Regions from separate parts of the Homo sapiens genome. Here region 1 is linked to region 2. Evidence: fine-mapped expression QTL. Tissue or cell type: whole blood. Region 2 holds a variant in brackets; the other region holds the start of a gene. All regions are shown on one strand. Distances are between the middles of the regions.

Region 1 (8,186 bases), 38 kb after region 2:
CTTATTACTAATCATTGTTTCTCAATTTTGACTTAAGGGCTATTTGTTCAGAATAAAATATATGGAACTAAGGCCAAGAATTTGTATGTTTACCTAATGTGACTTGTGTTTGCCAATGTTTGAGAACCTCAGTGTTTGTCAAGAGGCCTAGGAATTCATAAACATAACAAAAGTAACTGGCTTTACCTTAACCTAATATGCCAACTCCCAAAATTATGCCAAACTTGCTTTACTTGTCATCATAGCACTTAATACCCCCCAACATTATATATTTTTGTTTCATTTTTGACACATAACAATTTTACTTATTTATGGGATATGGTGATATTTTAATGTTATTTAGCAAAACCATCACCTCATGTATTTACCATTTCTTTGTAGTGAGAACAACCAAAATCTTTTCTAGCCATTTTGAAACAATGTTGTTAACCACAGTCATCCTACTGTGCAATAGACCGCCAGAATTTATTCCTCCTAACTGTAACTTTGTACCCACTGATTAATCTCTTCTCAGCCTCTGATAACCACCATTTTATTTCCCACTTCTATGAGATCAACTTCTTTGGATTCTACACCTGCATGAGATCATGTGATATTTGTCTTTCTGTGCCTGGCTTATTTCACTTAATGTTCTCCAGGTCCATCTATGTTGCCACAAATGACAGGATTTCATTCCTTTTAATGGCTGAATAGTATTCCATTGTATGTATATACCACATTTTCTTTATCCGCTCATCCACTGATGGACACTTAGGTTGATTCCATATCTCGGCTCTTATGAACAGTGCTGCAATAAACATGAGAGTGCAGATATCTCTGCAACATACTGATTTTACTTCCTTCAGATATATACCCAGGCGTGGGATTGTGGGATCATATGGCAGTTTTGTTTTTAATTTTTTGAGGAACCTCTATACTGTTTTCTATAATGGCTAGAGTAATTCAAATTCTTTTGTTTATTTATTATTTTTTTGAGACGGAGTCTCGCTGTGTCACCCAGGCTGGAGTGCAGTGGTGTGATCTCGGCTCACTGCAGCCTCTGCCTCCCAGGTTTAGCTGGGACTACAGGCATGTGCTGCCATGCCTGGCTAATTTTTTTGTATTTTTAGTAGATAAGGGGTTTCAGCATGTGGGCCAGGATGGTCTTGACCTCCTGACCTCGGGATCCGCCCACCTCAGCCTCCCAAAGTGCTGGGATTACAGGCGTGAGCCACTGCATCTGGCCAGTAATTTACATTCTTACCAACAGTGTATAAGTATTTCTCTCCACATATGCATGGGCATGTTATTTTTTGTCTTTTTGATAATAGCCATTCTAACAGGTATGAGGTGATATCTCATTGTGGTTTTGATTTGCATTTCCCCTATGATTATTTTTATTTATTTTTAATTTTTTAAAAATGTATGTATTTGTTTTTGAGAGTCTTGCTCTGTCACCCTGGCTGGAATGCAGTGGTGTGATCATGGCTCACTGCAGCCTCAAGCTCCTGGGCTCCAGTGATCCTCCCACCTCAGGCTCCTGAGTAGCTAGGACTATAGGTGTATGCCACATTGCCCAGCCAATTGTGATTTTTTGTAGAGACAGGGTTCTGCCATGTTGCCCATGGCTGGTCTTGAACTTCTGGGCTCAAGCAATCCACCTGCTTGGCCTCCCAAGGTGTGGGATTACAGGTGTGAGTCACTGTGCCTGGCTGAGCATTTTTTCATATATTTGTTAGTCATCATCATGTTTTCTTTTGAGAAATGTCCATTCAGGCCTTTTGCTCATTTTTAAATTGGATTTTTTTTTTTTTTTTTTTGGCTATTGAGTTGACTTCTTCATATACTCTGGATATTAACCCTTTGTCAGATATATAGTTTGCAAATATTTTCTCCCATTCTGCAGGCTGTCTTTTCACTCCGTTGATTATACATATTATGTATTTACTTATCTTTCATTGTCCACCTACCCCACTATATAGAGTTTAACTTGGATATTTTCCCAAAGTGTTAAAAAGAAAGATGGAAAATGGGAGCCAGAAATAGAAAGCCCACTGAGTACTACAGTTATCACTGAGAAAGAAGAATGAAAGTTATTACTGAAAAATAAAACTGAAGAAACCTCTCAGATGGGCCTGGTGCCTGGGTCCATGGGGACAAAAGTGGAACATCAGTCTAGCAGTCTAGTCTGGTGCTGGGGAAGACCTAAAGCCTGATTCTTCAGAGGCCATCATGGAGGCTGGGTTTGTGGGTGGTAGCCTGTAGGCTAGGCCCTCTGGGGTAGTTCTGGTGCCAGGGTCTACTGGGGTAGACCTGGACCTTGGGTTTGTTGGAGCAGGCCTGGAACCTGGGTTCACTGGAACCTGGGGCTGTAGGGACCAGCAGTCAGTGGACCTAAAGCCTATATCCACTGGTGCCAACCTGGAGACTGGGGCTGTAGGGCCCAACCTGGTGTTGGAGCCTGGTGCCTGAAACTATGGGGACCAACATGGGGAATGGAGTGGGCATAGATCTAGGCGCCATGGAGATTAGCCTAGCATTGGGGTGATCTTGGAGTCTCAGTGAAATGGCTCAGTGATCTTGGAGTCTCATTTTATAACAAACTAGAATTAAATACAGTACTTCTAATAATGACTTCTTCCAATTAGTCCAAACTGGGCTCCCACTTATTCCCTATCATACACATCTCCGTATCGTAAAACTATCCTCCCTGTTCGGCGCGTTGGCACATTCTGTTCCTCCGACTAGAATATTCCCTGTACTTATTCAAATCATACCTATGACCACTGCAGAACTCCAGGAACATGACCATCCCATCTAAACCCCTGCGTTCAGAGACTTGACCAAACTCTAGCAAGCTTTAGCAGCATAAGGCCCTGTGCCCAGGGCGACTGCCTCAGAAAGCTTAACTACGTGATGTAACCAGCACACAACTGATGATAGGTCTCTGACATCCCTTTCTTAGAACGTTTACTAAAGGGCTTGCAATTGTAAAGACTTATTTCTTGCCACTCAGAAGTTCTCTCTCAAGGACCAGAGAGTCATTCCTTTGAAATGTAATCGAGAAGGATAAAATCCTCCGTAGGAGGATAGAATCCTGCGGTAACTGTTAAAACGCGCGCACACACAAACACACAGCTGGCCTAATCACATTTACACTAACAACTCTGTAGGTTCACTTTCTCTACTGAGCGCCCGCATATCCCCTTTCTCCTTTTAAAACGTCCCTTTAAAAATGCCCAGATGATCTCTGCACGAATCGAAATAGAGCTCAGCTCTTTCCTGTCAGTAGTTAACTGAATGTTTTCACCGCTTTAACGTCCAGCTGCGCTTATCTTTGACATCGACTACCTAAGGTCTACCTTTAGTCCCACGACTCTGACAAAATGATCTCAATATTGGTGTAAAATCACCTCCCCTTTCAAGGGTCTTCCAAAGCACTTCCTGTCTGCGGCATACAAAATGTATTGGCACGGAATTTTAAGCTTACTGAGCTTTATAAACACGTCACATTCACACATTCAAGACACACACTGGATATTCGGATAAAAACAAACAAACAAAAAACTGGCTAAATACCCATTCCCCTCAATAACTTGGATAAGATACCTAAAAAAGGTCGACCTTCGGTACCTTTCTGTCTTCTCCCCTCTCGCTATTTGCCTACACTGGCTTCCTCACCTCCACTTTTTCTCACGTTTATCTGAGCGAAAACAAGCACGGTTCGGCAGCCTCCTTTCCCAGCCCTACCTTTGTGCTGCAAAAGCGAAAATTCAAAAGCCAAGTACAATAGGAGACCGCCCACCCTGGCTCCCTCGTGACACGAGGGAGCGCGAAGCGGAGGGCGCCTCGCGGCAGGAGCGGGATTTCCGGGGTCACGGGAACCGGCAGGGGAACGGGATAAAGTTCCCGGAGAAAGGAAAGGAGAGCGTGGGATAGTAAAAGAGAAGACGCGGAGAAGAGGAGAGGACCTACAAGAACGGAGGACAGGGGCGCACGATGGTCCCGGGGGGAGCGGAAACAAAGGCACGCAAAACGGAAAAGCGTGTGTAGGGGAGCGGAAAAGGAAGTCACCACCGTGGCCTGCGACGGTAAGTGGTCGTAAGGGTTGGTCTTAGCGCTTCAGTTTAGTGTTGTCAGTGGGAGAATCCTAAAATGTCGCCGTGGAATGGACTGTACCGCTCGCTTCTCCAAACGTGTCCCAGACGGCGAGCCTCCCCGGCTCCGCGGCTTGTCCCTTGCAAGCGCCGCGCAGGCCTGCCCCGCGCTGGACGTGGAGACGCGGTGCCGAGCGCCACGGGCCGGCTGTGCGCCGGCCGGGGAAAGAGGGCGAGGGGAAGAGATGAATCGGTCTTCCCAGAGCGCGCCGCGAGGTCGCGAGATTACACTTTAAAAAGCATGAGGAGGCTTGCTTTCTACATGCTGATTTAATTTCGGAATACATTCGAGGCCCTGTGCTAAGTTAGGTAATGTTCCCTATAATTGTCTTTTATGTATAAGTTGTCTTGCCTAACTAAAACTTTTCTTACTTGTATCGTGCAGCCAACTTTTCAAGAACGAAAGATGAGCAACTCCTTTCTGGTAGAGGTTCTTTCATTGGAGAATTTTTGAGCTACAATAATCCTTTTAACGCTGCGCACACATACAGGGATTACACGTGTAGGGGATTAAAAACACAGTTAAGTTTAGGTTGAAGGTGCTGTTAAGGACTTCAGGCAACATTAAATCAACACTCAGTTCTTTGCTCTGTTCCACATCTGGGCTCCTGTATAGCAGTTGTTGCTCTAGGTGCTAGAGGTATGCAGAGGAACTGGACAAGGGCAAGGAAAACAAAGGGCTCCTTCTTTAGAAGAGCTAGCATTCTCTTGGAACAGACAAGCTTGTGGTGAGAAGTATATTTGTGAAATCTACGAGGGGAGGGAGCAGCGCAGTAATAGAACGGGCGATCCTTTCTTGATTTTTTATTGGGTTCTGGCCTGAAAGGCGACTGTATAATCAGCTGGGATTCCTGCAATGATTAACATTCCAGGAAGGGAAGCCAGCCTGTGAAGAAGCATGGCATTGAAACAGGGTGAGTTGTGAGGATTATAAACAGGGTAGTTGGAGAGTTGATTTGTGGCCAGATTCTTAAGCCCCTGTTTAGTCTTAAGAATATTATCTTTAGGCACTGCAAATGCCCTCTTGCAGCTAAGACTAATGGGAAGAACTGGTTAAAAAACTAATTACAGCAAAGAGTGAGTGAGAGTGGTGATGAGAGATACAGATGTTCTGAGAGCAGACAATAAGGGGACTTTATGTAGTCCTATGTTAGAGGAGATGATTTGAAGTTACTCTGAGGAAGACAAAAATGTAACAGGTAGATCGCATATGCGAAAGCTTGAGATGGCGAAAAAATCAAAAGGATTTCAGGAACTGAAAGTTGTGCATTTTGGCTGTGTGAGGGAGAGAGTTGTGGGTGGCATGTAATGAACCTTGAAAGGTAGTTTATGTTATGACAGCCTACAACCGAATCAGAACTTTTACAAACAGGCGATATACAGACAGTCTGAAATCAAATGCTTCTGATTTCTATTACGTGCTCTAGGCTAATTGTTTTCTTTTTAAGTATGAGTTTGCGTTAGTCTTCTGGATTTAGTGATTACAGTATAAGGTGAAACAGGTAAAGGCTTTTAGAGAACATCTCACTTATTTCCTGTGCACTAAAGGGAAACAGATCACCTTTGCAGAACTTGAAAAAAATGGGAAGTGCGACCTTTGATCTCAGATGGACTTTCTTTCCTCTTTTCAGTGGCTTGGTAGTGAGCTTGTTCAGCTCCACTGAATCTTCTTTGTGGTGGGGCTGCAAGACATCCTGCATGGCAAGTTTTAAACATAAGTTTTACCCCGAAGAAAGCTTATAAAATTGTAAATGCTTCAGAACCTTTTCATCTTCCTGTGATTCTGGAAGAAATCCAAAAAAAACCAATCGTTTAACTACATACTTCTACAGAACCTGAATCTTAAGCTTTGTTCACTTTATACTATTAGATACTATAGTAGGTTAATAATGACTAACACCTTGTCATCTCATCACTGAGCTTTTGTCTAAGATAGTCTCTGAATTTAGAACTGGGACGAAAGTGTACATAATAGGCTATTATAAAATTTTTAGAATTGGATTTCTAAACTTGGGGTCAGTGAATCTAGCAGGCTTAAGCAGTGTTCTCAGGTTTTTCTGGCACAGACAAGGAATATAAGAGGAGGAGAGAAAAGGAGAGACAGTAGTGGGAGGGAATAGAATGAGAGAAGATAGAAAATATGGAATTAATAGAGAAAGGATACATGAAGTATTACAAGATTTTCTTGGAAAAATTGGCATTTCAGTGATGGATCAAAGATGTCTAATGAGGCAAAATACTACTATTACTTAAATATTTAATGTTTTAAAGATTTGAGGATAAAAGGATATAGATCTGATGGCGTTCATACTAATTGCTGTAGTGTTGATGTTGGAGAGAGGGGTAATGTATCAAGACAGAGCAGACAGACCCTTTACAATGAGAGCAGAAGATATGTTGTTTACTGATTCTACTTTCCCACAAAATGCTAATGCTTTTATAAGTCCCTCCTCCTTATTTTCTAGATTAACTCCTTGTTTCTTCCTCTAAACAGAGGATTATGGCAGACAGGCAAAAAAAAAAAAAACTTTTAAAGCAACTATCTAAGTCCTTACCAAGTTTCTTTAGCACTTTTATTCTAAAGTTATCAAGGTGGAAATTGGGGCCTCTGCCCCACATGTATCTGCTTCATTGGGTTGTATCTTCATACCTGATTAACGGCATATTCTAGGCAAAAGCAAGACCCTAGGCATGCTATGTTTGGCTCTGAATATGTAGGCCTCCCAGGTTTATTAGCTGAACTGGTACATGACCTTGACAGCTTATTTTCCCTAGACTAGAAGCATTCCTAAGGAACCCTGAGCTCTAGGCTATTTGGCCTTCTTAGAATGGGACACTTCCCAAATTGAAGGCAGCCCTAGGTTGCAGAGAGGAGAGAGGAGGGAGAAAGGGAGAGAGGGAGAAAGCAAGTTCCCTTCATCCTCAGTAAATAGAATGAAGAAGGGAAGGACACAGTGAGTCAAGTCTTATCTCAATACCTACTGGGTAAATTGCCTCTCATTCTGAGAAAGTTATAGAAAATGCATCAGGTTATCCTTAACTCACACCTAACAGTCTTGTGAGAAAATCTGTTCAAATAGTTAAAGTAGGAAGAATACTACTAACTAGACCCTTATACGATATGTATTATATGTAGATATGTAGAATGACTTTGTATTGTCTATTAACCTCATTTCTTAAAAAGTGTCAATATTTTTATTAGTGATCCAATAGAGATTATGTTGCATATAAACCCATTTTGTAAATATGAATAAAACCAGACAAGGAGCTCTTGCCTTCCCTTTCTGAAGAGGAGCAGAGATTCCTCAGCTAGGAGTGATGGAGAAGGTGTGGCTCTTTGGCAAGCTGACCAGAGGCCAGTGAAAGATTATTTATTTATTTGGCTGACTATGATACCCTCACTTGTAGCCACACCCCCTGGGTTTGCATTTTTTAAAAACCCCAACAGTGAAATAGTTCTTTTTTCTTTTTCTTTCTTTCTTTTTTTTTTTTTTTGAGACAGAGTCTCTCGCTCTGTCACCATGGCTGGAGTGCAGTGGTGTGATCTTGGCTCACTGCAATTTCCGTTTCCTGGGTTCAAGTTATTCTCCTGCCTCAGCCTCCTGAGTAACTAGGATTAGAGGTGTGTGCCACTACACCTGGCTGATTTTTGTATTTTTAGTAGAGATGGGGTTTCGCCATGTTGGCCAGGCTGGTCTCAAACTCCTGACCTCAGGCGATCTGCCCACTTTGGTCTCCTAGAGTGCTGGGATTACAGGCATAAGCCACCGTACCTGGCCTGAAATAGTTCTTTTTTTCTTATTTTGTAAATATAGATATTATCTTTAGTTTAGAAAATGATGACTAGGTACCATAATACCTATATAGTAATAACCACATTATGTGTCATTTAGTTCCACAAAAATTTAATGTAAAATTCTGCGTTAAGAGCTGTAAGATGCAGTCCCTGTCCTGATCACCCCTAAAATGCTACAGCTTATCTCGTATGTACCTTTCTGTTATGTTTTCTGGTTGTGCATGATTTTTTAAGAAATATCATTACCTTTAATA
Region 2 (8,186 bases):
GCAGGAGAATTGCTTGAACCCAGGAGGTGGAAGTTGCAGTGAGCCTAGGTTGCGCCACTGCACTCCAGCCCAGGTGACAGAGTGAGACTCTGCCTCCAAAATAAATAGATAGATAGATAGATAGATAGATAGATAGATAGATAGATAGATAGATCGATAGATAGATAATAAAAACATGAAATCCACACTGCTCAGCACAGCTCATAAGTCCCCTTCATGTCTCTCTGGACCCATTTCTGCTATGCTCTGCAATCCATGTTCCAATCTAACTAAGCTTGTTGAAGCTCCTTTAAAATGCCTATTCCCCATCCCTGAAATTGAGGCTTTCCTTTCCTGGAATCAAGTGTTTCCGAACATTTTCATATAATTTTTTTTGAAGAGAGACACACTAAAGTAGATTTTCTTTAGTGCCTCTCTTCAAAGGTTACTGGATGGTAACTTTCTGTATACTTTCTTCTTTTCTTTGCCTTTTGAAAAGGTAACATTGATTTCCATAATTTTTACATAACATAATAAAATCTGTTTTATTTGTTCAGCAGTCTTTTCCTATCTCAGACTACCTGAGATCATTTTACTTCTTCTAAAGGATGTCTTTAAATGCTGCTTTATGCTGCACTATTGGAAGCAAACTTTTTTATTCGTAAATATTTTTTTCTCTCATCCTTAAAAGGTTTTGCTGAGCATGTGATTCTAAGATGAGGGTTATTTTCTCTCAATAATTTGAAGATATTATTCCACCATTTTCTAGCTTTCATTGTTGAGAAGTCTGCTATAGTTCTATTGTTGTTGATATTGCTCTGTAGTTTGGAGTGGAAAGAACGAGTCTGTAAACCATTCTTCTCTCCATAGGGATAACAAAGGCAAGCTTGACCCTCCTTGAAATCACTGACTGGTGAAATTTACTGGCTAAGAAATACAGAAGGGTCATGCAGGGGTTTCCATGTACTGATTACAGAGCTAGGGATGCTTTTAGCATGATGTATCTGTTCCCTTGAGACTGGTCACTGTAAAAAACCATCAATTTATGTACTGCTGTTGTGCTGAAAAAGCAGAAGGTATGTACAGTTGCTTTCCAGTTCAAACTTGGCCCTTATTCAGCTCTCAAGACTCTAAAACCAAATATATACTGGTGAGGCAAAGGGATTCTGGAAATGGCATCTGAGAGTTTGAGGCCTCCTGTGTATTGACTTTGAAAACACTTGATAGAGTTTGGCCGTTTGTCCCCTCCAAATCTCATGTTGAAACATAATCCCCAATGATAGAGACAGGGCCTGGTAACTGGATCATGGGGGTGGATTCCTCATGAATGGCTTAGCTCCATCTCCTTGGTGATAAGTAAGCTCTTGTTCAGTTAGTTCACAAGAGATCTGGTTATTTAAGAGTATTGGACCTCCTCCTGCCCTCTTGCTACCTCTCTCACCAAGTAACATGCCAGCTTCCTCCTTTGCCTTCCACCATGATTGTAAACTTCCTGAGGCCCTCACCAGAAGCCAAGTAGATGTTGGTGCCGTCCTCCTACAGCCTGCTGAAGTGTGAGCCAATTCAACTTCTTTTCTTTATAAATTACCCAGTCCCAGGTATGCCTCTATAGCAATGCAATAATAGACTAATACACCACCTCAGTGTTTTATGTTAGTCTAATTTAAGCTTTTGTGATCATATATAGGTTTCTGTCCTTCCTTTTCAACTAATTTTAAGAGTTTGTGTTTTGACTTTAATATCAAATAGTTTCACAATTCTTTGTCTATGTATGGATTTATTTGTAATATATTTTTAATGTATTTTCCTTCTTGGATCTGTGGATTTGTTTTTAAATAGTTCCATAATATTTTCCATCACTAGCTCCTCTAGTCCCTCAATTCTCTTTTCTGGGTCTTTGGTTAGATTTAATTTTTTTTTTTTTTTTTTTTTGAGACAGAGTCTCGCTCTGTCACCCAGGCTGGAGTGCAGTGGCGCCATCTTCGCTCACTGCTCCTCACCTTTCCGGGTTCGAGTGAGTCTCCTGCCTCAGCCTCCCTGCAAAGCGTCACCACGCCAGCTAATATTTGTTTAGTAGAGACGGTTTCACCATGTTGGCCAGGCTGGTCTCACTCCTGACCTCAAGTGATCCGCCCGCCTCGGCCTTCCAAAGTGCTGGGATTACAGGCAAAAGCCATAATGCCTGGCCTCCATTGTGTTCACTCTGGGGTCTCAGCAAAAGAAACAGCAGCTACCAAGGGAAGCTTTCTGCATAAGAAGAGCAGAGGTACAAGAGGGCAAGCCCTCCTCCTCAAATACATTTCAAGTGTATGATATGCCTTAAATCTACTCACATCCCATTGACCAAAGTAAAGCTGCTGGGATAGACACTTTGTTTTAGAGTGGCAAAGGGCAAAGCAGCAGATACAGGGAGAGGGAAAGAATGCAGTCAATAATTTAATCCACCACACTCGAAAATCCCCAATAATTATAGTCAAGAAAAATGGAGACAGGCAGGCAGCTTAGTAGGCATTTGAGGTGTTTGTGTGTTTCCCCTTACTTCAACTAGTCAGCTATACTTTCAGTTCTCTGAATGAACCATGCTGTTGCATACTTCCGTATATTTGCACAGGCTGTTCCCTATATGAAATGCCTTTCCCTTCACTCTTTTGCCTAGAAAAATACTGCTAATCTTTCAAGACTCAGTTCACATGATTCCCCTAATTTTAAGTCTTCCATGGTTTCCTACCTTGGTATAATTGTGTTATTATAAATCTACTTGCCTTACTAAATTCGTAATTCCTTAAAAGCAAGGACTGTACATTGTAAATCCTGTTGGTTGCTTTGTATCTAACAAGGTGCCTGAAAAAGCAACAACAATGACAAAATGTTTAATGAGAGCTTTTGAAATTATTAAATGGCCATTATATCCCACTATTCACTTTGGCTCTGGGTGTCAGTTGGTTAGTCCCGAAACTGTTGAATTTTGGAACAGCCTTTTCATTTATGTGACAAATATTTATTGGGCTCTCAACATTCCCAGATTTAATAGGAGAAATAGCCATTAGAATACTGTATGCACCTGAAAAGAAGGATGGAAAAAATGCTACATGAGTTTAGAGGAGGGGACATCCTGCTACCTAGTGGGTCAGGGGAGGAATATATGCTATCATTTAAAAATAAGGTATTTATTTATTTATTTATTTATTTATTTTTGAGACAGAGTTTCGCTTTTGTCGCCCAGGCTGGAGCACAATGGCGTGATCTCGGCTCACTGCAACCTCCGCCTCCCAGGTTCAAGCGATTCTCCTGCCTCAGCCTCCCTAGTACTGTTGTCTAGGGATTGTTGCATTTTACTTTTTTTTTTTTTGAGATGGAATCTCGCTCTGTTGCTCAGGCTGAAGTGCAGTGGTGTGATCT[C/T]GGCTCACTGAAATCTCCACCTCCCAGGTTCAAGTGATTCTCCTGCTTCAGCCTCCCAAGTAGCTGGGATTACAGGCACACACCACCACACCCAGCTAATTTTTGTATTTTTAATAGAGATGAGGTTTCACCATGTTGTCCAGGCAAAAATAAAGCCTTATTGCTCTTCTCCCTTTTCCACACTGTGTACACCACTACCACTACCCAACCACAAACGTGTCACACATCTTTCTTCCTCTTTCTAGAAGTAATTCAATGCCCAGGCAATCCAGAGATACGCTGCAGTCATTAGATTGAGGTAGACAGAGGTTAAATAGTTTAAACCACACTGAATCCTGAAGGAGAAGAGGCGCCACTTCTGATGGACAGTGTGTATGGTCATGACTCCTCTTACCTCTCAGTGATTGAGTATTCATAGCACCTGGAAAGAAGCTTCCGGCTCACAAGGAGCTTTTACATACATTTTTCCATTGATTTTCATAATCATCCTGTGAAAGGCTTAAAGGTAAAAAGGGTTGCTTTGGAAGTTAAAGCAAAGCCAGTAGTTACATTACTTTGAATCTGTCTTTAATCTAAATTTGTTCATGTCTATCTGGTTGAGTGATACCATGATAAATATGTAGTAGATGCTTTTTAAAAAAAGGCAACTTAACAAAATATAGCATTAAATAGTTTGTTTTTTATAGCCTTTCAATGACCTCATCCTTCATGGTATAAATTGAACCACTGTAGCTATGTGTCCAGAAGTGGTGGGTTCTTGGTCTCACTGACTTCAAGAATGAAGCCACGGACCCTCTCGGTGAGTGTTACAATTCTTAAATACGGCGTGTCCAGAATTTTTTCCTTCTGATGTTCAGATGTGTTCAGAGTTTCTTCCTTCTGGTGGGTTCGTGGTCTCGCTGGCTTCAGGAGTGAAGCTGCAGACCTTCACTGTGAGTGTTACAGCTCTTAAGGCCGCACGTCTGGAGTTGTTCGTTCCTCCCGGTGGGTTCGTGGTCTCGCTGACTTCAGGAGTGAAGCTGCAGACCTTCGTCGTGAGTGTTACAGCTCATAAAGGTAGTGTGGACCCAAAGAGTGAGAAGCAGCAAGCTTTATTGCAAAGAGCGAAAGAACAAACCTTCCACAGCGTAGAAGGGGACCCTAGCCAGTTCCCACTGCTGACTCGCGCAGCCTGCTTTTATTCTCTTATCTGGTCCCACCCACATCCTGCTGATTGGTCCATTTTACAGAGAGCCGATTGGTCTGTTTTACAGAGAGCTGATAGGTCCGTTTTGACGGGGGGGAGGTGAGGTGGGGTAGTGAGGGGGTAGGGAGGTAGTGGGTGGGAGGGGTGGGCGGATGGGGGGAGGGGTTGGGTGTGGGGGAGGGGGTGGGGTGGGGTGTGGAGTGGGGGATTTCCATATAGCACAGACATAGGGATGTCAAGTTGGCTGGGGTTGGGGGGTAAGGCTTCAAGTCACATTTGCACAGAAAACCAAATGCCCACTTTGTACTGCCACCAATTAGAGTTAATACGTGTTAACTACTTGGATACATAGTAGGTGCTCAATAAATACTTTTATTATATTTCTCAGTCTGCCTAGAATATGGTTTTCTAAGATGCAGAACTTCCTAAAATAGTTGTTAAAATGCAGGCTATACTTCATTAATCCTTGCTCTGTCCCCCAGGCTGGAGTACAGTGGCGCGACCTCGGCTCACTGCAAGCTCCGCCTCCTGGGTTCATACCATTCTCCTGCCTCAGCCGCCAGAGTAACTGGGACTACAGGCACCCGCTACCATGCCCGGATAATTTTTTTTTTTTTTTTTTCGATCTCCTGACCTCGTGATCCGCCCGCCTTGGCCTCCCAAAGTGCTGGAATTACAAGCGTGAGCCACTGCACCCGGCACATTAATTGATTGTTTAACTGGTAATTCTGAATAATTAAGTTGCTGAGAGCTACAATTATAAAAGATTACTTCCTTCCTAACACATCTCCTTAGACTGGATATTAAAACTACTGTTTCCATAGTGGAACAAATAATTCATGGAAATAGAATGAGTTGTGCAGTCAACTCCGATGAATTCATCAAGTGCCAGTTTAACTTTATGAATAGGAGCTTACTATAAGATTTTAATAGTTATCATTCAGATAAGCAAATTTTAGAATAATGGTTGAAACAAAAGGACTTACTTAGTTAAGTTCTTCTCTGTGAGTCAGAAAGACTAAAGCTGTGAATAACACTAAATAAAACGGATGGGCCAGGTGCGGTGGCTCACGCCTGTAATCCCAGCACTTTGGGAAGTGGAGGTGGGCAGATCACGAGGTCAAGAGATCAAGACCATCCTGGCCAATATGGTGAAACCCCGTCTCTACTAAAAATATAAAAATTACCTGGGTGTAGTGGCACACACCTGTAGTCCCATCTACTCAGAAGAATGAGGCAGGAGAATTGCTTGAACCCAGGAGGCGGAGGTTGCAGTGAGCCGAGATCATGACACTGCACTCCAACTGGAGACTCCGTCTCAAAAAAATAAAAAAAATTTTAAAAAAAGGCCAGGTGGGGTGGCTCACACCTGTAATCCCAGCACTTTGAGAGAGCGAGGCGGGCGGATCATGAGGTTAGGAGTTCAAGACCAGCCTGACAATATGGTGAAACCTCATCTCTACTAAAAATACAAAACTTAGCCAGGCATGTTGGCACGTGCCTGTAGTCCCAGCTACTCGGGAGGGTGAGGCAGGAGAATCGCTTGAACCCAGAAGGCGGAGGTTGCCGTGAGCCAAGATCGCACCACTGCACTCCAGCCTGGGTGACAGAGTGAATCTCCACCTCAAAAAAAAAAAAAAAAAAAAAAAAAAAAAAAGACTGATATCTCTATTGAATATCAAAATACTTTTGACCCGACACATAACTCTGAAAAATATGGCATCCTTTCCAAATCTTTTTTTTTAGACGAAGTCTCGCTCTGTTGCCAGGCTGGAGTGCAGTGGCGCAATTTAGGATTCAAGTGATCTCCTGCCTCAGTCTCCCGAGTAGCTGGGCCTACAGGTGCGCACCACCATGCCCAGCTAATTTTTTCTTTCTTTTCTTTTTTTTTTTTTTTTTTTTTTTTTGAGATGGAGTCTCGCTCTGTCGCCCAGGCTAGAGTGCAGTGGCACGATCTTGGCTCACTGCAAGCTCCGCCTCCCAGGTTCACGCCATTCTCCTGCCTCAGCCTCCGGAGTAGCTGGGACTACAGGCGCCTGCCACCATGCCCGGCTACTTTTTTGTAGTTTTAATAGAGACGGGGTTTCACTGTGTTAGCCAGGATGGTCTCGATCTCCTGACCTCGTGATCCTCCTCCCTCGGCCTCCCAAAGTGCTGGAATTACAGGCGTAAGCCACCGCGCCCAGCCTAAGTTTTGTGTTTTTAGTAGAAACGGGGTTTCACCATGTTGGCCAGGATGGTTTCAATCTCTTGACCTTGTGATTCACCCACTTCGGCCACCCAAAGTGCTGGGATTACATGCATGAGACATTGCACCCGGCCCCTTTCCCAGTCTTTAATGCAACATCTCCCAGTTACAAACATTCCACATCATCTCCTTTTATAATTTAATTTAGACTAAAGTCGAAATTTTTTTCTTCCATCATCTGCCATTATATATATAAATAAATAATTGGAGGCCAGGCACGGTGGCTCACGCCTGTAATCCCAGCACTTTGGGAGGCCAAGGCGGGTGGATCACCTGAGGTCAGGAGTTCGAGACTAGCCTGGCCAACATGGCAAAACCCCATCTCTACTAAAAATACGAAAATTAGCTGGGCATGGTGGCAGGCACCTGTAATCTCAGCTACTCAGGAAGCTGAGGCAGGAGAATCATTTGAACCTGGGAGGCAGAGGTTGCAGTGAGCCGAGATCGTGCTACTGCACTCCAGCCTGGTCCACAGAGCGAGATTCTGTCTCAAAAATAAATAAATTAATTAATAATTGGAAAGCCTGACCTCATAATTTCTCAATCTCTGTATTTCCAAAACCTTTTATCTCTACTTCACTTCAATCATCTGTCTTCTCTGAATTGCTCCACTTTGAAGATTAAATCTCAAGGCTTTACCTCTGTCTAGTGCTTTCTACCTGCTCTTTTTCCTCCCACATTCATGGCCATTATCATTGTCATCAGATGATCTCTTATCCCTTCTATATTCTTATTCTTATATTAGGCCCTTTGTGGCTTCTTCTACCTATTTGGCCTAATTCCATGCTTGTACATTGGAGTGCTTCCCTCCATTCCAGCACCTTTGAATCTCTAGACTGTTTAACCTTACACCAACTTACAAAATCACTTCATAAATCTTAATTCTCATACTCACAATCTTCACTTCTTTTTCTTAGAATGCCTAATGTTACTTTATGTCACAAGACAAAAAGTGCTGATTGGACTAGAAGAATTTCTGCCATTTTTACCTCTATTCCAACAATCTTTCAATTCATTTCTTATTGACCCATGACCATATTCCTCCAAGAATGCTTAGAAAGGATTTTTCTCTCCTCTCCAGTCTCCCAGTCCCACTGTGGCCTCTTTCAGGCCCAGTGGAAGCTTTTCCATTTCATTTCTACGGTCATAACCAATAAACATAGGCTATTCATCATTGGGGCATCTTTATGAAGAAAATATGTCTACTGACACCTCTTCTTTGTTCTGCTGTACATAATGGTGATCAGGACTCAGGGTCATTAGTGAGTGAGGGGAAGAGGAGGACATGGGCTGGTTTGTTTGAAAAATTCCCCAGTGTAGCAGGCACTGTTGACACACTGTCCAGAACCATACCTTCCGTGCAAGCCAGCAGGT

The links. PIP is the estimated chance that this variant, and not a neighbour inherited with it, causes the effect.
Region 1: ECHDC1 starts here. The variant in region 2 is fine-mapped to the expression of ECHDC1 in whole blood (INTERVAL, PIP above 0.99).

What each region holds. Positions count from the first base shown.
Region 1 is chr6:127,339,220-127,347,405 of GRCh38, reverse strand. ECHDC1 (ethylmalonyl-CoA decarboxylase 1) reads left to right here and starts at 3,797. Exons shown (of 6, transcript NM_001002030.2): 1 at 3,797-4,070. LOC105377994 (a long non-coding RNA gene) reads right to left here. Exons shown (of 4, transcript XR_001744334.2): 4 at 5,747-5,919. RefSeq lists enhancers at 1,891-2,764, 3,639-4,512.
Region 2 is chr6:127,377,003-127,385,188 of GRCh38, reverse strand. No RefSeq gene overlaps it. Among named protein-coding and RNA genes, the nearest start is that of ECHDC1, 37 kb to the right of the region's middle. The variant C/T (reference allele first, on the strand shown) is at 3,379.